Regions from separate parts of the Homo sapiens genome. Here regions 1 and 3 are each linked to region 2. Evidence: fine-mapped expression QTL. A gene starts in region 2. Each other region holds a variant in brackets. All regions are shown on one strand. Distances are from middle to middle.

Region 1 (7,326 bases), 21 kb before region 2:
AGCCTTCCAGCCAGGGTTTCAGTCAACATTTGCCAAGCACCTGCTTGGGGTTAGAACAGTGGGATGCAGCTGTGAAAGACAGACAGACACAGCCTGGGGCAGACACATCCCAGCCAAGACTGGAGGCAGGTAAGGACGAGTGTCTTCAACTTCTTTGGATTGAGGGCTGAAGGGGCGGGGTCCCCCAGAAAGCAAAACCCACCCAGAAGCCCAAGCAGAACAGGACTGCCTCCTCTGAAGGTGGATGTCACCACTACTAGGCATACACATTTCCTTGGGCTCATCCCTACCCAGAACGGATCATTACAGGAACTGCCTCCCAAACCCCTGCAGAGCTGAGGCCAAGACTAGGCATTCCAGCCCCGAAGCTGCTCCAGGATGCAGTGGCTCATTGCCTGTAATCCCAGCACTTTGGGAGGCCAAGGTGGGCCAACTGCTTGAGCCCAGGAGTTCAGGACCACCCTGGGAAACATAGTAGGACCCTATCTCTACAAAATAACCTTAGCCAGGCATGGTAGCTTGCACCTGTAGTCCCAGCTACTTGGGAGACCCGAGGTAGATCACTTGAACCCAGGAGGTTGAGGCTGCAGTGAGCCATGATCGTGCCACTGCACTCCCGTCTGAGTGACTGACAGAATGAGACCATCTTAAAAAAAAAAAAAAAAAAAAGCTCAGGCTGCGTGATGAGCTCTGTAGGCCCACAATGATGCACAGCCCATAAGAGACATGGTTCTCAAATCCTGGTGTCCTCAGAATCACAGGAAAGCCTACTGACGATGCAAATTACCAAGCTCCAGAGAGTCTAACTCTATCAACTTGGGATGGAGTCCAGAAATTCCAGATGATCCCAAAGCTGAATGAGTCCCAAACCTACACTCTGCAAATCCCTGGCTTACAGCCCCCTGGCTCCCTCTGCCCATCCTTTCTAATCATCCACTTCCCAGACCAGTGGTCTGTAACTACCGTGAGGACTCCTAAGGTGGCACAGAGATGTTTCAGAAGCCCCCAAGAGAAAGGGGTGGCCAAGCTAAGGATTTACACACAAACACACACCTTTTCTTCCCTAAATTTAAAGGGTCCCATTAACGTCTAAGAGTATGTGTGTGTATGTATATATATGTAATTTTTTCTTTTTTGAGACAGGGTCTCACTTTATCACCCAAGCTGGGGTGCAGTGGCGCGATCTAGTCTCACTGCAACCTCTGCCTCCCGGGTTCAAGTGACTTCTGCTTCAGCCTCCTGAGTAGCTAGGATTACAGGCATGCACCACACCGCCCCCACCCCGCTAATTTTGTATTTTTAGTAGAAATGGGGTCTCACCATGTTGGCCAGGCTGGTTTCAAACTCCTAGCCTCAAGTGATCCACCCGCCTCAGCCTCCCAAAGTGCTGGGATGACAGCCATGAGCCACTGTACCCGGCGTTAAATATTTCTTAAACTCCACTGAAACCCATCCCCAGTCAAGCCTACTGCCGTGACAAGGGGCAGGACTGCTGAGGTTGCTCGCTCGCCCTCAGCCAGCGAGTTAAAGGGCCAACTAATGCCAGCTCTTTCCTCTGCGTGCCACAGGGTGGTGAGGTCGAAGCTGCACCGGACCTCACGGCAGCACAGAGCCAAGGAGCCAGGGGCCTTTGGCTTTCAGAGAAGAGAGAAGCAGGAGGCCCTGGAGAGAGTGTCCTCAGCTTCGGTACCGACGCCCTACCATTACCGGTGGGAGCCCAGAGAGTGAGGCCAGGGGCCGGCACTGGGCAGGGAGGCAGGATCCAGAGGACACTGCTTCACTCAGACCAACAGGGAGCCAGGCCCTGCAGGGGCTTTATTTTGACACCACTTTGTTTCAATACAAACAGTCCAGAAAGAAAGTCAAGTCCCTCTGGGGGAGGGGCAAGGGGAAGAGTGGTCTGTGTTGCTTGGGAGCCCAACCTACAACCCAAAGGTGGGGGCTGGGCTGAGACTGCCGGTGCGGCAGGGGAAGATGGCACCAAGAATGACAGTGCTTGGCTCAGCTGCCAGAGGGTGAGGCCCACAGCTCTCACTGGCGGGTGCTGTCCAGGCCAAGCCCAGAATGATGCAGAGGAAGGAGCTCAGCCCCAGGAGCCTGCCTCTGCCTCTCACATCCTCTGCTTCCCTGGCCAGCATCAAGCTCACAGCATCCAGAGTCGAATCACAGCAGACAAGACCCTCCATGGCCACCAACCCGGGGAAGAAGGGATAAAGAATGTCACAGAGGGTCCTGCATTCCACAGCAGATGGTACAGAGGGACCCTGAGACACCCTGAAACAATCTTCCAAGTGCTTACTGTAGAAAGGGGTGGTGAGACGGGAGAACCCAAGGGTCTCCGGTCTGATCCCAAATGAAACCTTTAGGTACCAGGTAAAGTTTCCAGCCCTTGGTAACGCCCAGACAAAGGTCCTTCCCCTCTCCTGGCACCCAGAAGAGGCCACTGGCAGCAGCAGCAGCAGCAAGTCCGCAGCCTCTTTCCCCATGGGACGGGTCTACAGTGAACTCCTTCCAGGCCTCCCCCTGGTTCCAGAGGATGGGGACCCAAGGCCTCGAACTAGAAGAACCCTAGAGCCAGCAAAAAAAGCCTTCTACCTTCCGCTTTCCCTACCTGGGGAAAGTCTGGACCCAGAATAAGCCATCGTGGGGGAACCCCCTTTCCCAGTATGGCAGGATAAGTGAGCAGCAGCTGTGGGGGCAGGACAGAAGGACAAGAGTCTAACACACGGAGGGTGGTGTGAGAGGGAATAAAGGGCTCAGTCCACAGGCAGAGGACAAGGGCTGGTACTGACCATTCCCCTCACAGGAGTGAGCGCCTCAAAGGCCACCCCACACACACACCACACATACGAAGTAACAAATCCTCCCCAGCTTCCACAAGGCAAAGCATCCCCAGCCTGGGAACTGTGGAGTTCTTGTTGCCGTCACCATCGTAAGCCTGAGTCACAGAGCTCGGATCAGTAGGAACCGTAGCGATCCTGGGGGCGAGGGGGGAGAAAAAAAAAAAAAAAGTCAGAGGCTCTAAGCTGCAGCAGCTTCCCAGCAAACACACTGCCTGCCCCAGCACCCCACAGCAAGACTGGGGAGGCAGGGGCTGGACAGCCCGGTGAGGCAGGAGTCCACGGTGAGAGCTGGGGCAGCGGCCACTCGGGCACCCGACAACAGGGAAGCCCTGCCTGGCCTCACAGAAGCTGGGAAGAGAAGAGAAAGAGCGGTACAGGTGACAAGGCCAGGGAAGATCATGGCAGACACAGAGGCATCTTGGAGAGGCCCGGCCCTGGCACGGAGCTGAAAGGAAGGAAGCTGCCCTCCAAGAAAATGCCTCTCTCTAGACTCTTGCTTTTTCGTTTGTGGTTTTTTTTTTGAGACAAGAGTTTCACTCCTGTCACCCAGACTGGAGTGCAGTGGCATGATCTCAGCTCACTACAACCTCCAGGTTCAAGCGATTCTCCTGCCTCAGCATCCCGAGTAGC[G/A]GGATTACAGGTGCACGCCATCATGCCCAGCTAATTTTGTATTTTTAGTAGAGACGGGGTTTTGCCATGTTGGTCAGGCTGGTCTCAAACTCCTGACCTCAAGTGATCCACCCATCTCAGCCTCCCAGTGCTGGGATTACAGGCGTGAGCCACCACACCCGGCCGAAAATGCTCTTAAGGCTCAGAGGGGCTGAGCAGTAGCAGTGTCTCTATGTGGTGGCGAAGGGCAAACCTCCCAGCACTCCTCATTAGGCCCCACTTCAGCCTCACCTGCAAGGAATTCATCACACCATTGGCCAGCACAGCCATTTTCCCAGCCACAGACTTGACACCCTGCTTAAACTGGGCAATGTCCGCTGTAGGCAGCACGTTCCCCAGAGATACACTTCCTGTAAAACAAGAGCAGGGTGACCCAGAGCCCAGCAAGAAGCCCTTCCCAGTCACAGCAGGGCCCTCCCGCCCTGCTCCCAGGCCTCACTTGGTGCCTGCCACCCCACCAGGGCCCTACCTGCTCCGTGAGCTCCATCCATGTCCCCAAAGAGGTCTGAAGAGCTGATGGCACTGCTGCCTGAGAGCTGCTGCAGCCGAGACCTGGCCTCATACTGTGGTGAGGAAAAGGCCAGGCCTGGGGATCTTGGGGCTGATGACCCAAGGACTCACACAGGCCAGGCCCTCCTGGTGCTAAAGCCCAAAGCAGCGGCAGGGAGAAAGCTCATGCTTCTGCCTGCTGCCTCGGACCTCAGGGCAGACAGCCCCACTTACCTCTGCATCCACCTCCCGCCCAAAGAACATGTCAGATGAGATGGCTTTGGCTCCTGCGAATTTCTGACGCGCCTCACTAGACTCGAGGCCTGAGCTCCGGCTCTCCACTTCCCTCCGGTTTGTGGCTCTGAGGGGAAGATGTGGAATATCTCGGACTCCTCCCATTATCATCAGGGGAGGCAGAGTACAGAGGCCAAACAGAGCACCAGTGGCCTTTTGGTGATGGGTTACCAGGTCCCATTCTGTCTGTGGCTCTGTGGCTCTGGGCCCCTCTCCCCTGGTGAGGAGTCACCCTTCTCCACATTGAGGCCAAGGCCCAGAGAGCTTAGGAACCTGCACTAGGCAGGGTGGAAATACAGCCTGCAGTGGCCTAGGCTCCTGCCCAAAAGCACACAGCTTCGTCAGCATTCAGGAGGCCACACAACTGCTGCTACCCTAATCCTAGTGACAACTTGCCTAGTACTACAATGAGCATATGTGTCGGTCTGCCTGGCTTTATACCTACTCTTGTCATAACTATGAATAGCAAACTGCCCCCTTTACTCTCAAAAGCATCCTGGTGTGGAAAGGGAGATGGTTGCTCTCATCTCACGCTGAGTATGTGGACACTGGGCCAGGTATTTCCGGAGACCCTATGAAGTAGTTACGTTCCCATTTTATACGGGGATAACTCACAGATATTATGTCAACTAAACAGATCCCAGATTAAGATGGAGTAGGGTTTTAAAAAATAAGAAGGGGGCTGGAGACATAAAACCCCTGAAAGGAGGTCAGGACTGAAGCATACAATCAGGCTCCTCCGGCCAGAGAAATGGACCCCAAGCAAAAGAAGCTGCCAGGCCCTCTATGATGACAAAGCACAACTCAAACCGAAGCCTGACTGCTGCCCTGTCTAATGAGGCAGGCACCAGCCACTGGTGGCTATTTACGTTTATCAGAAATTAAACTACATCAGAAATTGTTGCTCAGTTGCACCAACCACATTTTAAGGGCTCATAGCCACATAGTAGTGGCTACCATATTAAACAACACAGAGAACATTCCCATCAACACAGAAAGTTCTTCTAGACAGTGCTGCCTTAGAATTCTCTACCTTCAGCTTGTTTAAAAAAAAAAAAGAAAGAAAAAAGAAAAAACAGCCCACTCTACCTTTCTGAAATAGGCCGGATGCTTGAGATGGTCACTTCTGGCTCCTTCTCCTCTACCCTGTCCATACCCCAGGCAGCATCTGTATCCCAGCGGGAGCCAAAGCTTTCCCCTAAGGAAAAGGGATTGTCCTTGTACCTAGGGAGACAGTAGAGTGGCTCAGAGAAGCCTGATGAGGAACACAGCAGCCAAGTTTACAGCTAGAAAACAGCCTTACTTTGGGGGTCCAGAGGCGAAAGTACCAACATCGTCAAACAAGTCCAGCTGCGAGCGAGAGGATTTTGCACTCACTGGGGTTTCCTGCTCAATCACCTGCATCTCAGACAGCACGGAGTGGGAGACAGAGCTGCGCAGCAAAGCAGAGCCAGGCATGAGACCAAAGGATAGGCATCAGCATCACCGCACAAGAGACAATGCCCAGCAACTGGGTTCTCCTTCACGGAGCGTCACCCAGAGCCTTCTGTCCTTACCCAAGCACAGGGCTGGGCCAGACCCCAACAGAAGGCTAGCTGTGTGTGGTGACCTGTGAAGCACACCTCAGAATTCTTTACACATCAGCTTTGTTTATTCCACGTAGGAGTTCCCTGGCCAGTGACGGTTTGCCTGTTATAATTTAATTTTATTTATTTATTTGAGACAGATTCTCACTCTGTCGCCCAGGCTGGAGTCCAGTGGTGCAATCTTGGCTCACTGCAACCACCACCTCCCAGGTTCAAGCGATTCTTGTGCCTCAGCCTCCCGAGCAGCTGGGACTACAGTGCACGTCACCACACCCAGCTGATTTTTTGTGTTTTTTCAGTAGAGACAGGGTTTCGCCACATTGCCCAGCCTGGTCTCAAACTCCTGAGTACAGACAATCCACCCGCCTTGGCCTCCAAAAGTGCCAGGATTATAGGCGTGAGCCACTGTGCCTGGCTCGTGTTGTAATTTTAATATTGTGCACCAGATGCCAGTGGTCTCTGTCCTGAACAACTCCCTACCTTGTGCACTATGAACCCCATCCTTCACTGATGGGGTTCACAAAGCAAAGGAATGGATGAAGAAATGCCCCAGCACCAGGGAAATGAACATAACTGCATCAAAGAATGAGTTCTTCATCATCCTACTCTTTATTAAAAAAAAAAAAAGCCAGGCACCGTGGCTCACACCTGTAATTCCAGCACTTTGGGAGGCCGAGGCGGGCAGATCACGAGGTCAGGAGATCGAGACCATCCTGGCTAACATGGTGAAACCCCGTCTCTACTAAAAATACAAAAAAATTAGCCGGGCATGGTGGCAGGTGCCTGTAGTCCCAGCTACTTGGGAGGCTGAGGCAGGAGAATGACGTGAACTTGGGGGGCGGAGCTTGCAGTGAGCCGAGATCGCACCACTGCACTCCAGTCTGGGCAACAGAGCGAGGCTCCGTCTCAGAGAGAAAAAAAAAAGCACCTCAAAGCACAAAGACTGGCCTTATGCACTAAGACCTAGAATTGCTGTCTCGTTTCTCAAAGAAAAGGGGTCTAGGGTTGGCAGGCAATACAATACAACTCTTGATGCCTCTCATTCCTCTGTCAGGCTCCACAAGGACACTTTAAGGACTAATTTGATTTAAATCAATTCATTAAAAAATATCTATAGCTTTTAGCTAGAAGAACCCCAAGGAGTGATTATTTTGCAATAGGGCTGAGTTGGGCCGGGCATGGTGGCTCACACCTGTAATCCCAGCACTTTGGGAGGCCGAGGCAGCCGGATCACCTGAGGTCGGGAGTTCGAGACCAGCCTGACCAAGACGGAGAAACCCTGTCTCTACTAAAAATACAAAATTAGCCAGGTGTGGAGGCTGAGGCAAGAGAATAGCTTGAACCCCGGAGGCGGAGGTTGTGGTGAGCTGAGATCACACCATTGCACTCCAGCCTAGGCAACGAGATTGAAACTCTGTCTCAAATAAATAAATAGGGTGAGTTGG
Region 2 (7,326 bases):
ATGCCAGGCAGGTCACACGATCCAGCCAGGGATTAAATGGCAGGCGGGGGTGGGCGGTGGGCAGAAGGCCCCACTCCCCCAACTGCCGATGAGAGGACTCCTGCCCAGGCTAGGGCCTCTGTTGCCTTCCCTTGAGTGACAAGACAACCCTGTTACCCGAGAGGCCAAGTCAGAGGGTGCCTGGCCACATCCCAGTAGCTCCCTGTACTGAGGAGGGCACGAAGGGAACCAAGAGGCCTGGCTTCTGTGTTGGCCAGGAAGCCCGAACAAGTGTATGTAACTGTCTCCTCCTAAGGAGGCCCCAGCTCCCTCTAAGATGGAACTCCTCTGTGTGCTCAGCTGCCATGCCAGGGCTGGTGTGAAACTCAAACCAAGCAACGCACCAGAAATACGAGGGGCCCTGCAGTCACGGAAGATACTCATCTCACTCCACACATCCACTGAGGGCCCGCAAGGCTCCGTGGGGAACACACAACCCGGGCCTGCCCTCCAAAGGCCTGGCGTCCAGGGCAGCATGGGGAAGTGAGAAGCGATGGCCAACTATAAGAATGTCTCCCAGGCTGGGTGTGGTGGCTCACGCCTGTAATCTCAGCACTTTGGGAGACTGAGGTGGGTGGATCACCTGAGGTCAGGAGTTCCAGACCAGCTTGGCCAACATGGAGGAACCTCGTCTCTACTAAAAATATAAAAATTAGCCAGGCGTGGTGGCGGGAACCTGTAGTCCCAGCTACTTAGGAGGCTGAGGCATGAGAATCACTTGAACCTAGGAGGCGGAGGAGGTTGCGGTGAGCAGAGATTATACCACCGCCTGGGCAACAGAGTGAGACTGTCTCAAAAAAAAAAAAAAAAGTTCCCTAGAATCGCAGAGGACGGCAAGCCAATTCCAACCCCAGAGCCATGGCCCCAGGGACTCAAGGACACAGTGGCATGTGGCTGCTCCCCTCCTGCCTCTGGGCAGGGTCTCAGCTGTCCCCAGCACTGACTGACTCACAGACCCTAGAAGGAAATCGCTTCCTCTCTGAGCAGGCCCAAGGGACACAGCCAGACCCAGGAGGACAGTGTGCGCCCTTTGTCCCCAAAGCAGGGCGCTGTCACAGCGCTTCCTCCAAACTCATGCACCTCTGCTTCTCCTTCAAACCTCCAATTAAGGCATCTTCTCCTCAGTCACTTCCCCTGTTTCTCTGTCCTTGCTCCTGTAGCCCCGGGTGACCCTTCAGCCGGGGTGTATAACCCATGGAGTTGTGGCTGACAGGACAGTGTCTATCTTCAGTCACCGACAGAGGCTTCCAGGATTCTGATTTGTGTGTCCCCACGCGCTGGAATCAGCAATAATTAGTTAAGTGAGAAAAGAAGCGATGTCCACCTGGAGCGCAGGAAACGCGCCCGCTCCAGCAGCTGTGGGAATGCTTGGTCCAAGTGGGCTTCCCCCTCTGCTAACAGGAGACAGAGCTAGGGGCTCCGCGGAGACCCAGGCAATGGAGGTGCCCACCAGGGGCCTCACAAGCTCGTCACTTGGTTCCCTCTGCAGTGTGTCCTGTCTGCCCAGAAAGGACCTGACAGGGCGATGGAGAGAAAGAGAGCTGCTGCCATGAATCACAGGGCTCTGGAGCCGCCCCAGTCCAGCCTCAGGAGCCTGGGGCCCCTTGCCTGTTCCAGCCTCCGAGTTCCCTGCTCCCCAGAGAGCTGCCCCCCACCCCTTCCCTCTCTCTGGCCCCAGAACAGAGCAAGCTGTGTGTACCGGGCTGGCACAGCTCCCTCCGGCCTCCCAGAGCAAACACAGGCCCAAGCCCCGGGTGCAGCCAGGCCCCACAGCCCCAGCCTGACCTCTCAGCAAGCAAGCAAGGAGGGCTTGCACCTTGGCCCCCATTGAGCAGGTTGGCACCCTGTGCCTCCTGAGCTCAGCAGAGACCCAAATCAGTCCCCACCGCAGGCAAGAGCTCAGAAAGCAGGTAATGCAATCTTCCCAGCCCCGGGAGCCAGCACGTTCGGCTCCGAGAGGTCTTCCTGGGCTTGGCAGGGTCTCCTTGCAGCTGCACGGGCCAAGGTAGGAAGTCCCTGGTTCAGGGAAGACCCAGTCTCCCTACCTGAGGCCTGAAGGTACCCGGCCCCAGACCAGCCCCAACCTCTTCCAGAAGCTGGGGGCTTGCCCCTGGGAGGGAGCTCAGCCATTCTGCCTGGCCCATCCCTGGAACCTGAGTCACAGGCTGCGCCCAAGGGCTTCTTTCCCGGGCAGCCCCTCCCGGTGCGCCCGCAGCTCTAGGATTTGAGGACAGAGCGGGGGGGAGGGGAGGGGGCGTCAGTAGGCTGGTCCGAAGAGGGACAGCGAGGTTAGAGGGGCTGGAACCAGAAGCCAGAGCCAGCCAGGAGATCAGGAGGCTGGGGGAGGGGGTGGCGCAGCCAAAGCGGGAGGAGGCAGGGCCAGGGAGGGGCATAACAAAGGGGCACTTTTGGAAACCCGACCTGCCGGCCGGGGTGCCTGCTTCCAGATGACGCACTCCGAACCCCAGCCTCCACTCCAGAGCTCGGCGCCCAGAGGCTACGCGCCTCTGGCCTCAACCCTTATGGACCGCGCCCCTCGACAGGACCCCTTGCCGCCCGGAGCTGCATAACTCGGAGCCCGTGGAGCCACGCGGAGCGGCAGGGCCAGGCCTAGCCACCGAAGCTCTAGACTTCTTGGCCAAACTTGTTGAACTTGGTCTTGGCGGGGGTGGGGCCACTGATCACCGCCAAGGGGAGGGGACGCCCCCTGCCTGGGCCGGCCTTGCCGTGGGCTCCAGATGGTGGCCCCGGGCAGCGGACCCAGGAATCGGGGCTCGCTGCATAGGGCGAGGGATCGCCAGGGAGCGAGGACCCTCTGGGGCCTCGGGGCGGGCGCGAGGCGAGCGGACGGGGGCCCTCGAGGGGCCCCTGAAGACGGCTCAGCCCTCCAGCGCCGGCGCCGCCTCCCCCGGGCGGCCTGCGGAATTGCGAAGCCCGCGGCACCGCAGATGGGACGGCCCCTCGGCGCGGCTACGGCCCTTCCCGTCGGCACGCAGAGCGGGGTGGCCGGGGGCTCCCTGGGCGGGAGTCGGCTCCATTGCAAACTTCAGAAGCCGGAGCAGGAGAGGGCGGGCTCGAGCCACCGCACCCGCCGCCGCCTACCCGCGCGTCCCCTCCAGGGCACTCACCGCGTCCTCCCTGGGCCCCTCGGCGGGTGGGGGTCCGGCCACGCTCCGGCCCGAGTCCTGCCGCTCCTGGGCCCGCGCCGCGGCCTCCCGGAGCGCGCCGGGCCCTCCCCCGGGAAGCCCGGCCCCCGGCCCCCGGCCCCGCCCCTCTCCTGGCCGCCGCTGCCTCAACCCCACGCGGCGGGGCAGCGGGGCTGCAGGCATCGCGGCGACCAGCGGCTCTTGTGGCGCGGGTCGAGGTTTCTCTGCTTCGCCCGTGTGCGGAGTGCCTGGGCGGGCTCCCCAGGGTTGCGCCCCGGTGCCGCAGGGAGCCAGATTTCGGCTTTGCCTCTCCCGGACCGTTGCAGAGCCTGGGAGACCCGAGGGAGCAAGAAGGGACCGGGCCGGCACGGGCAGCCTTGGAGAGGGGCCGGGGGAATTACACTGCCTTACATTTTTAGCTGCACAGCTTGTTTAGAAATTGGCTCAGGCGAGGCTCACAACCACCCCTTGTAAGCATTAGGATTCCCACTGTACAGATGCAAAAACTGAGGCTCGGGGGCTTTTCAGAGGCTTGCCCAAGATTTCCCTCTAGTCAGGCAGGGCTGGGACTCCAAAACCGTGCCCTACCGTTCCACAGCTGCCCTGCTAATCTGGGGCGCCTTCTAAGGCCTGAGACGAACACGCGGTGGGGGTGGGACAAAAAGGCCTAAGCTCCTCCCGCTCCGAGTTCTTATTTCCAGATTTTGTACCACGATTCATTCTTACCCTTCGCCCCTCCACCCCCTTTATCAGTCTGGTACATTTTTCCATATCGCCACGATGCCACCCCACGCTAAATAAATCCCTTCTCCCTCCTCTCTCCCTACTTCCCTCTCCCCGCTTTCCCCCGGGGGTGAGATTTTGCAGAGCGGCTCCGTCTGTTATTTATATCCACTGGAGCGGTCCAAGAATGTTCCGAAGCTGACCTAATCGCCACCTGCTCGGCCTCTCCGCCCCTCCCACTCTCTCCTGGGCCCGGTGACCCAGCGGCGGTGCCCTGAGCCTTGAAGACCAGGGGGAGCGCGGACCAACGGGGTCGAACGCCCGGGCGCAGAAGGTCCCGGACGCAGAAGGTCCCGGGCGCGCAGAATCGCAGCGGGTCGGAGAGCCCCGGCGCTCTCAGAGGAGTGCGCCCCCAGGGACGCGGCTCTGAGCCCTGGGAAGCTGAGGCGCCTGGCTGCGCCCTCTGAAGCTCGTACTTTTCCTCCCACCCTCAGCTCCCTGAAGAGTGTGAGTGCGTGCGCGCGGAGTTTTAAACGGCAGCTTTAAAAATAGCAAAATTATGTTGTTTCTAAATCCAGGAGGAATCACTGACGCGTTCTTTACGCAGATGAATCCGCTCACAAAACGGGAAAGGGACCTGGAGAAAATGAATGGGGGTAATTTTGCCTGCCGAGGGCTCACTTGCTGGGCAGTGCTAATGGAAGGGTAAAACTGCCTCCCCAAGACACCTGTGGGGCACCCAAGGCGCGCCACCTTTGGCCTGAGGATTCTGGCCGTGTTTGGCAAATCATAGCTGAGTAGTGAATCTGAAACCTGGGATGTGGTTTCTGAGACCAATTTCAACACCCACTCTCTCTTAGGGCTTGGACAAGTCCCTTATCTCTATTTCTACCTCTATAAAACATGACAGGTGACCAGCTGACCTTCCGCTGAGCCATGAGCCCCAGCTAATTAATGATTGTAAAAAACAACTGCAGATCAGAGGAGCTGGGAAAATGGCAAATCACAGCCACAGGGTTTTGTATTCTTTAAAATCAGTTAACATCCCTCCTAGCGCCTGAAGGCCTTTAGGCACCTAGACCGAAGTGTGAAAACACAAGAATGAAATTAATTACAGGAGCCACCTATTAAAACCTCATTAAAAATAAAGTTGGCAGCCAGGCTGTGGGATCTGGGAAAGCCAGGCCATAGAGAGACTCAGAAAACAGGGCTGTTCATCAGACCACAAAGAGAAGGGGATGTGGACTGGAAAACATCTGGCTTCCCTTGGGCTCAAGTCTGGGAGCAGAAAGCAGAAATGTTGCAGCTGATCTTAATTGCCCCTGAGGTACTGTAGGGGAAAAAAAACAACAAAATAAAACCCAGAGCATAGGGGGCTGCTTCTAAGCTGAAAGTAGACAGACATGCCTTTGGAAAGCCAGCTCCAAGCTAATGCTACCCCCAGGGCTCCCATTCTGCGCTCTATGGCCAGAGCCCTTAACATCCACACTGCTCCATCAGTGCTGTCCTCAACCCAGAGTTCAAGATGAGATGTCAGTGGACAGAGGGCTGCATAAAGACAGAAATCTGGTCGGGCGCGGTGGCCCACGCCTGTAATCCCAGCATTTTGGGAGGCCGAGGCGGGTGGATCATCTGAGGTCAGGAGTTTGAGACCAGCCTGGCCAACATGGTGAAACCCCATCTCTACTAAAAATACAAAAATTAGCTGGGCATGGTGGCGGGTGCCTGTAATCCCAGCTACTTAGGAGGCTGAGGCAGGAGAATCGCTTGAACCTGGGAGGTGGAGGTTGCAGTGAGCTGAGATCGTGCCATTGCACTCCAGCCTGGGCGACAAGAACAAAACTCCATCTCAAAAAGAAAAAGAAAAAAAATGACAGAAATCTAAGGCTGGGCACAGTGGCTCACGCCTGTAATGCCAGCACTTTGTGAGGCTGAGGCAGGTGGATCACCTGAGGTCAGGAGTTCAAGACCAGCCTGGCCAATAATGAAACCCCATCTCTACTAAAAACACAAAAAAACTAGCAGGCGTGGTCGTGGACGCCTGTAGTCCCAGCTACTTGGGAGGCTGAGACAGGAGAATTGCTTGAACCCGGGAGGCTTAGGTAGCTGAGATTGCGCCACTGCTCTCCAGCCTGGTCGAAGGAAACTTTCTCTCAAAAAGAAAAAAAGACAAATCTAGCAAGGCATTTGGCTCAGGGTACCAATGGGCAGATTGGTCCATAGCCAGATTTCACGCCACTCACAGACTCACCTTGAGTTTCTGGAATATCCTAACCACTGTGCCTTCATTTGTTTATTTATGCATTCATTCACCCAGCCAAGAAAACACTTGAGTTTTTACTCCATGCTAAGGCTATGCTAGGAATGTTGGGAGTACAAAGTTAAATAAGGCAGAGTCCAAGTGTACCGTAATGATGCAAGGCAGATAGGAAGTATTGAGAGAAAACAGGCAGAAGGGACGGCCTTTCACAGGACATGACACTGATAGGTCTTGATGAGTAGGAATTAGTCACGTGGACAGGCATTCTAGGCAGGAGCTTCAGGGTGTGCCAAGCCCCAGGGGTGTTACCATATGACTTTGTGACCTAGCAATTCTACTTTTTGGTATTTACCCTGGACGAACATGTACAAATGCAGAAAGAGGTACAATGATGTTTGCATATAGTACTGTTTGCAACAGGGGAGAACTGAAAACAAATGTTCATCATGAAGGCAATAGTTGAACAACCTAAAGTTCATTCATGCTGTGGATTACTCTGCAAAAACTCAAGAACAAGCTAGAGGCAGGAGTTCGAGACCAGCCTGGCCAACAAAGTGAAACCCCTTCTCTACTAAAAATACAAAAATTAGCCAGGTGTGGTGGCGTGTGCCTTTAGTCCCAGCTACTTGGGAAGCTGAGACAGGAGAATCGCTTGAACCCAGGAGGCGGAGGTTGCAGTGAGCTGAGATTGCGCCATTGCACTCCAGCCTGGGAAGCGAGAGCAAAACTCCATCTCAAACAAAAACAAACCAAAAAAAAAAAAAAAAAAAAAAAAAGAACAAGGTAGAGAGAGACATATTCTTTTTTTTTTTTTTTCGAGACGGCGTCTTGCTCTGTCGCCCAGGCTGGAGTGTAATGGCGCAATCTCAGCTCACTGCAACCTCCACCTCCCGGGTTCAAGCGATTCTCCTGCCTCAGCCTCCTGAGTAGCTGGGATTACAGGCACGTGCCACCACGCCTGGCTAATTTTTGTATTTTTAGTAGAGACGGGGTTTCACCATGTTGGTCAGGCTGGGCTCAAACTCCTGACCTCATGATCCACCCGCCTTGGCCTCCCAAACTGCTGGGATTACAGACATGAGCCACCGCACCCAGCCAAGAGATGTATTCTTATAAGAAGACCTCCAAGACGATGTCAAGGGAAAAAAGCAAAATGCA
Region 3 (7,326 bases), 450 kb before region 2:
GGTCAGGAGTTCAAGACCAGCCTGGCCAACATGGTGAAACCCCGTCTCTACTAAAAATACAAAAATTAGCTGGTCATGGTGACGCATGCCTGTAGTCGCAGCTACTCAGGAGGCTGAGGCAGGAGAATTGCTTGAGCCAGGGAGGCGGAGGTTGCAGTGAGCTGAGATCGGGCATCATTGCACTCCAGCTGGGCAACACAGCAAGACTCCATTGATCGATCGATCAATCAATCAATCAGGTGGCCAGAGAAGGTTGGAGAAGGCCTCCCTGAGAAGGTGATGTCTGGGCAGGGACTGGAAGAGGGGAAGGAAGGAGTGAGCAGGCATATCTAGGGGAGGAGCACCGCAGGCTGGGGGCATGGCAGGCACTAAGGCCCTGAGGTGGGAGCACTCTTGGCTTGTCTGGGGAGCAGTAGGGAGGCCTGGGGGGCTGAGGAGGGGCAGCAGTGGGTGAGGGGAGAGAGGGGGGCAGGCAGAGGACAGCCACTTCCTTTAGGGCCTGGAAGGACTTTATTGAGTGAGATGGGAAGTTATTGAGGGGCTTGAGGCAGGTTAAGAAATGATGTGACTGACTTTAAAAGTAAAAAATAAAAAAATTTAGTGTAATTTCAGACTCACAGAAAAGTTGTAAAAATAATACAAAGATTTCCTGTATACTGTCATCCAGATTGTCCTCCATTCTGTGGATGTGTGGGAATTTTTATATATATATATGCATAGTTTGAGAGCAAATCATGAATATGGTTTCTTTTTACCCATAAATACTTGAGTATTTCCAAAAAAAAAAAAAATACCCAAGGATGTTCTCTTATGCAACCACAATACAAATATTAAAACCCGGAAATTTTTTTTTGACATAGCTTCGCTGTCACCCAGGCTTGAGTGCAGTGGCACAATCTCGGCTCACTGCAACCTCCTGCTCCCAGGTTCAAGTGATTCTCCTGCCTCAGCCTCCTGAGTAGCTGGAATCACAGGCATGTACTACCATGCCTAGCTAATTTTTGTATTTGTAGTAGAGACAGGGTTTCACCATGTTGGCCAGGCTGGTCTTGAACTCCTGACCTCAGGTGATCCACCTGCCTCGGCCTCCCAAAGTGCTGGGATTACAGGCGTGAACCACTGTACTCGGCCAAAACCAGGAAATTTTTTTTTTTTTTTGAGATGGAATCTTGCTCTGTTGCCCAGGCTAGAGTGCAGTGGCATGGTCTCGGCTTACTTGGAATTACAGGTGCCTGCCACCACGCCCGGCTAACTTTTTGTATTTTTAGTATTTTTAGTAGTGATGGGGTTTCACCATGTTGGCCAGGCTGGTCTTGAACTCCTGACCTCGGGTAATCCACCCACCTCGGCTTCCCAAAGTGCTGGGATTACAGGCGTGAGCCACAGCACCTGGCCCAAAACCAGGAAATTAATGATGATACAATATTATTGTCTAATCTATAGACCTTATTCAAATTTTTGTTAGTCTTGCTAATGTCTTTTATAGGGAAAAAAAAAAAAAAAAGCGTGTTTCTCACCCAGGATTCAATGAAGGATCTTTCTTTGTCTTCTATGACCTTGACATGTCTGATGAGTGCAGTCTGGTTATTTTGTACACTGGCCCTGAATCCGGGTTTGTCTAAGGTTTCCTCACGGTCAGGTTCGGGCTCAGTGGTGCCATGTCCTTCTTGGTGCATCCTGTTAACTGGCACATGAGAACAATTTGTCTCATATGTGGTGAGTCTAACTCTGACCTCTTGAGGAAGGCAATGTCTGCCAAGTTTCTTGCTGTAACTTCTGTTTTTCCCTTTGTAATTAATAAGAATCTGGTAAAGAGACACTTTGATGTTTTTTTTTTTTTTTTTTTTTTGTGATGGAGTCTCCCTCTATCACCCGGGCTGGAGTGTGTGGTGCGATCTCGGCTCACTGCAACCTCCATCCCCCAGGTTCAAGTGATTCTCCTGCCTCAGCCTCCCAAGTAGCAGGGATTACAGGCATGTGCCACCACACCCAGCTAATTTTTGTATTTTTAGTAGAGATGGGGTTTCACCATGTTGGCCAGGATGGTCTCGAACTCCTGACCTTGTGATCCGTCTGCCTCAGCCTCCCAAAGTGCTGGGATTACAGGTGTGAGCCAATACGCCTGGCCTACTTTGATATTTTGTATTCTGTTTGCATCAAAACCTTCTCCCAACTAGGGTGACTACCAAATGGCACTTATCTAATTCTGTCATTCCTTCTACATTTGTTAGTTACTTTATTGCTTTCCTTCCTTTCATTCTATCAGTGTGGACTTAAGGATCCTTACTTTATTCTAAGGGTTCACCTTTTTTTTTCTTTTTTTTTGAGATGGAGTTTCGCCCATGTTGCCCAGGCTGGATGGAGTGCAATGGCGTGATCTCGGCTCACTGCAACGTCCTCCTCCCAGGTTCAAGCAATTCTCCTGCCTCAGCCTCCTGAGTAGCTGGGATTACAGGCATGTGCCACCACGCCTGGCTAATTTTTTGTATTTTTAGTAGAGACAGGGTTTCACCATGTTGGCCAGGCTGGTCTCGAACTCCTGACCTCAGGTGATCCGCCCGCCTCAGCCTTCCAAGGTTCTGGGATTATAGGCGTGAGCTCTACCGTGCCAGGCCATACTTTGTTACTACTGTTATTTTTTCTGATGCTCAGATGATCCCAAGTTTGGCCTGTGGAAGTCCCTTCAAGCTGGCTTCTGTGACTTGGGGAGATGTTCTGTCATTCTTTGAGTACTTTCTTTCTTTCTGGCACAGCAAAATGATTCAGGTTAATCCTACTTTCCTTACTGTAGTGTTGGAACCAGCCATTTCTCCAGGGAACCCTTGTAGTCAAGAGTGGAATTTAGAACTGAGATCTGGGTGCTGGCGTGTGCACATTGCTAGTGGGATGTCATTACTTCTAGGCTCTCTTAGTGGACAGAACCAGAAAAAAATTATATGATGCATATACCAATATCTCTATCATCTATATAAAAAACCATGAGTTCCTACTGAAACCTCCAATTCCATTCTAACACCACAGGATTAATTTTAGCTTTTCCTTTTCCATATTTGTAACTCTCTCTGTTGACAGTGAGAAACCTGACCCTCATTATCTGTAATGCATTTGCCTATTTGAACAATACTAGAATATAGTTTCAAAATCCTCCATCCATAACACTATTAAAACCAATCCTATGGCTGGGCTCAGCCCACTGCAACCTCTGCCTCCTGGACTCAAGCCAGCCTCCCACTTTAGCCTCCCGAGTAGCCAGGGCTACAGGCACACACCACCATGCCCAGCTAATTTTTGTATTTTTTGTAGAGACTGGGTCTCACTGTGTTGCCCAGACAGGTCTTGAACTCTGAGCTCAAGTGATCCATCCAACTCAGCCTCCCAAAGTGCTAGGATTACAGGTGTGAGCCACCATGCCTGGCCTCTCCTAGTAAATTTTTAGAAGTGGTGTTGTTAGGTCAAAAGGCAAACATGTATGTCATTTTTTAGAGATTTTTAAATTTCTTTCCATAAGGGTTGTACCAGTTTGCATTTCCATCACAGTGTATGAGAATGCCTGTTTCCCCACAACCTTGCCAAAAGAATGTCACAGTTTTAAATTTTTACCAATCTGAGAGGTGAGAAATAGTATCTTGAAATTGTTTTAACGGACATCTTTCAAATTGAAAATGAGGTTGAACATCGTATCATATGATTAAGGACCTTTTTTTTTTTTTTTTTTTTTTTTGAGATGGAGTCTCCCTCTGTCACCTAGGCTG[G/C]AGTGCAATGGCACGATTTTGGCTCACTGCAACTTCCGCCTTCTGGGTTCAAGCGATTCTCCTGCTTCAGCCTCCCAAGCAGCTGGGACTCCAGGCGCGAGTCACCATGCCCGCTAATTTTTGTATTTTTAGTAGAGACAGGGTTTTACCAGATTGGCCAGGCTGGTCTCGAACTCCTTACCTTGTGATCCTCCCGCCTCGGCCTCCCAAAGTGCTGAGATTACAGGCATGAGCCACCACGCCTGGCCTAAGGACCATTTTTATATAATTTTTTTTTTGAGACAGAGTCTTGCTTTGTCACCCAGGCTGGAGTGCAATGGTGCAATCTTGGCTCACTGCAGCCTCCACTTCCCTGGTTCAAGTGATTCTCCTGCCTCAGCCTCCCGAGTAGCTGGTTCCACAGGTGCGTGCCTGGCTAGTATTTGTATTATATAATTTTTTTGTGAATTGTCTCTTCATGGTTTTTTGCCCATTTTTTGGTCCCTTTCTTATCAATTTTTGTGAGTTCTTCGTATTTATATTAGGCCTTTATTTGTGATATACATTGCAAATGTTTTCTCCTAGTTTGTCAGTTTTTTTAACCTCATGTATAATTTTTCTGGCCATGCAGTTTAAAAAATTACTAGGTAGTCAAATTTATCAATCATTTATTTTATTAAATCTGGATTTTGAATCAGAGATAAACTTTTCCTGGCCAGGTGTGGTGTCTTACACCTGTAATCCCAGCACTCTGAGAGGCTGAGGTGGGGGATCACCTGAGGTCAGAAGTTCAAGACCAGCCTGGCCAACATGGTGAAACCCTGTCTCTACTAAAAATACAAAAATTAGCTGGGCGTGGTGGCTGATGCCTGTAGTCCCAGCTACTCAGGAGACTGAGGCTGGAGAATTGCTTGAACCTGGGAGGCGGAGGTTGCAGTGAGCAGAGATCGTGCCGCTGCACTCCAGCCTGGGTGACAGAGCAAGACTCTGTCTCAAAAACAAAACGACAAAAAACAACAACAGAAAAGCCTTTCCTGATAGCTAGGTCATTGAGGAATTCACTCATGTTTTCTTCTAGTACCTGATTTCATTTTTCTGCACTTAGATTCCTGACTCATATGGAGTTTATTTTTGTATCTGATGTGAGGCATAGATCTAATTTATTATTTTCCAAATGGCTAACTAGCTGTCTCTAAACCCTTTATTAAAAATTATTGGCCAAGTGCGGTAGCTCACACCTGTAATCCCAGCAGTTTGGAAGGCTGAGGCAGGATTGCTTGAGGCCAGGAATTCAAAACCAGCCCAGACAACATAGCAAGACCCTGTCTCTACAAGAAAATATTGGTCAGGTGTGGTGGCTCACGCCTATAATCCCAGCACTTTGGGAGGCTGAGGCAGGTGGATCATGAGGTCAGGAGATAGAGACCATCCTGGCCAACATGGTGAAACCCTCGTCTCTACTAAAATACAAAAAATTAGCTGGGTGTGGTGGCGCATGCCTGTAGTACCAGCTACTCAGGAGGCTGAGGCAGGGGAATCATTTGAACCCAGGAGGTGGAGGTTGCAGTGAGCTGAGATCACGCCATTGAACTCCAGCCTGGCGACAGAGCAAGACTCCATCTCAAAAAAAAAAGGAAAAAGAAAATATTTTAAAAATTAGCTGGGCATGGTGGCATGTGCCTTGTAGTCTCAGCTACTTGAGAGGCTGAGTTAGGAGGATTGCTTGAGCCTAGGAGTTCAATACTGCAGTGAGCTATGACCGCACCATTGCACTCCAGCCTGGGCAACAGAGTGAGACCCTGTTTCTATTAAAAAAAAAAAATCGGCTGGGCGCGGTGGCTCACGCCTGTAATCCTAGCACTTTGGGAGGCCGAGGCGAGCGGATCACCTGAGGTCAGGAGTTCAAGACCAGCCTGACCAACATGGAAAAACCCTGTCTCTGCTAAAAATACAAAATTAGCCAGACATGGAGGCACATGTCTGTAATCCCAGCTACTCGGGAGGCTGAGGCAGGAGAATCGCTTGAACCTGGGAGACGGAGGTTGCAGTGAGCTGAGATCCCTCCATTGCACTCCAGCCTGGGCAACAAGAGTAAAAACTCCGTTTCGCCAGGTGCGGTGGCTCACACCTGTAATCCCAGCACTTTGGGAGGCCGAGGTGGGTGGATCACAAGGTCAGGAGTTTGAGACAAGCCTGGCCGACATGGTGAAACCCCATCTCTACTAAAATACAAAAAATTAGCCTGGCATGGTGGTGTGCGCCTGTAATCCCAGCTACTTGGGAGGCTGAGGCAGGGGAATCACTTGAACCTGGGAGGAGGAGGTTGCAGTGAGCCGAGATGGTGCCACTGCACTCCAGCCTGGCAACAGAGCGAGACTCTATCTCAAAATCAATCAATCAATCAATCAATCTTTGAACTAGTGATTTGAGATTTCACCTTTATCACATTCTAGATTGTATCTTATTTTCATTTATTTATTTGAAATATAGACAAGTCTCCCTGTGCTGCCCAGGCTGATTTCAAACTCCTGGCTGGGCTCGAGCAAGTCTCCCGCCTTGGCCTCCCAAACTGCTGGGATTACAGACGTGAGCCACCATACCTGACCTAGGTTTTATTTTTTAGTTTTATTTTTTCCTGCATCCAGCTAATTTGATTTGATTTGTAGAGACGGGGTCTTGCTATGTTACCTAGGCTGGTCTCGAACTCCTGGGCTCAAGTGATCCTCCTGCCTTGGCCTCCCAAAGTGTTGGGATTACCAGCATGAGCCACGGTGCCCAGCCCCACGTTCTAGATTTCTATGGATAGAGTATGCTTAAGGATGAGTATGTTTCTGGATGTTCGACTCGGCTTTCCTGGTCTGTTGTCTGTCTGTGTACAGCGTCACATTGTTTTAATGATAGAGGCTTTAGCGTACATAGCTGGGAAGGCTAATGTTCTCTTTTAGTTTTTCTTTCCAGTGGTTTCCTGGCAATTCTTGCATGTTTGTTTTTCCATATGAACTTTAGTGTCAACATGCCTAGGTCTATAAAAAAGCTTGGTGGTAATTTTATTGGGATTATGACACTTCAACAAATTAACTGGGAGAATGGACATATTTTTGATGTTGAGTCATTTTATCCAAGGATAAGAAACGTTTTCCTATTTGCTCAAGTCTATTATTGTATCTTTCTTGACTGCTGCAATGTATTCTCTTATAATTTTTTCTATTGGTATCTTATTTTATGTATTTGTAATATCTTATTTTTCTTGAGTAAATTAGTTAATGGCTTGCCGGTTTTCTCAAAACAAATATCTAGGGATTTGATTTATGAAATTATTAGGCCTATTATTTTTCTTTTTTTTGAGATGGAGTCTCACTCTGTCGCCCAGGCTGGAGTGCAGTGGCGTGATCTCAGCTCACTGCAACCTCCACCTCCTGGGTTCAAGTGATTCTCCTGCCTCAGCCTCCCCAGTAGCTGGGGTTACAGGTGCACGCCACCATGCCCGGCTAATTTTTTTATATTTTTAGTAGAGACGGGGTTTCACCATGTTAGCCAGGCTGGTCTCGAACTCCTGACCTCATGATCCGACTGCCTCAGCCTCCCAAAGTGCTGG

Alleles and levels. Positions count from the first base shown, and alleles are read on the strand shown. Sizes are in standard deviations (SD) of each study's normalised expression.
As copies of G replace A in region 1, the expression in tibial artery of the gene that starts at base 3,253 in region 2 goes down (small effect, 0.23 SD a copy in GTEx).
As copies of C replace G in region 3, the expression in fibroblasts of the gene that starts at base 3,253 in region 2 goes down (small effect, 0.37 SD a copy in GTEx).

The links. PIP is the estimated chance that this variant, and not a neighbour inherited with it, causes the effect. A credible set is the group of variants that fine-mapping cannot tell apart.
Region 1: its variant is the best candidate, but not a certain one, in a credible set for the expression of PACSIN3 in tibial artery (GTEx, PIP 0.56).
Region 3: its variant is the best candidate, but not a certain one, in a credible set for the expression of PACSIN3 in fibroblasts (GTEx, PIP 0.58).

The regions. Positions count from the first base shown.
Region 1 is chr11:47,162,525-47,169,850 of GRCh38, forward strand. ARFGAP2 (ARF GTPase activating protein 2) reads right to left here. Exons shown (of 16, transcript NM_032389.6): 11 at 5,599-5,727; 12 at 5,385-5,519; 13 at 4,236-4,362; 14 at 3,982-4,075; 15 at 3,744-3,862; 16 at 1,777-2,978. The coding sequence ends at 2,958. It also overlaps a transcript of CSTPP1 not described here. Among named protein-coding and RNA genes, the nearest start is that of ARFGAP2, 11 kb to the right of the region's middle. The variant G/A (reference allele first, on the strand shown) is at 3,474.
Region 2 is chr11:47,183,182-47,190,507 of GRCh38, forward strand. PACSIN3 (protein kinase C and casein kinase substrate in neurons 3) reads right to left here and starts at 3,253. Exons shown (of 11, transcript NM_016223.5): 1 at 3,168-3,253. RefSeq lists silencers at 2,882-3,201, 3,252-3,351 and an enhancer at 3,023-3,909.
Region 3 is chr11:46,730,086-46,737,411 of GRCh38, forward strand. The region is part of intron 12 of F2 (coagulation factor II, thrombin); the gene reads left to right. Among named protein-coding and RNA genes, the nearest start is that of F2, 15 kb to the left of the region's middle. The variant G/C (reference allele first, on the strand shown) is at 3,753.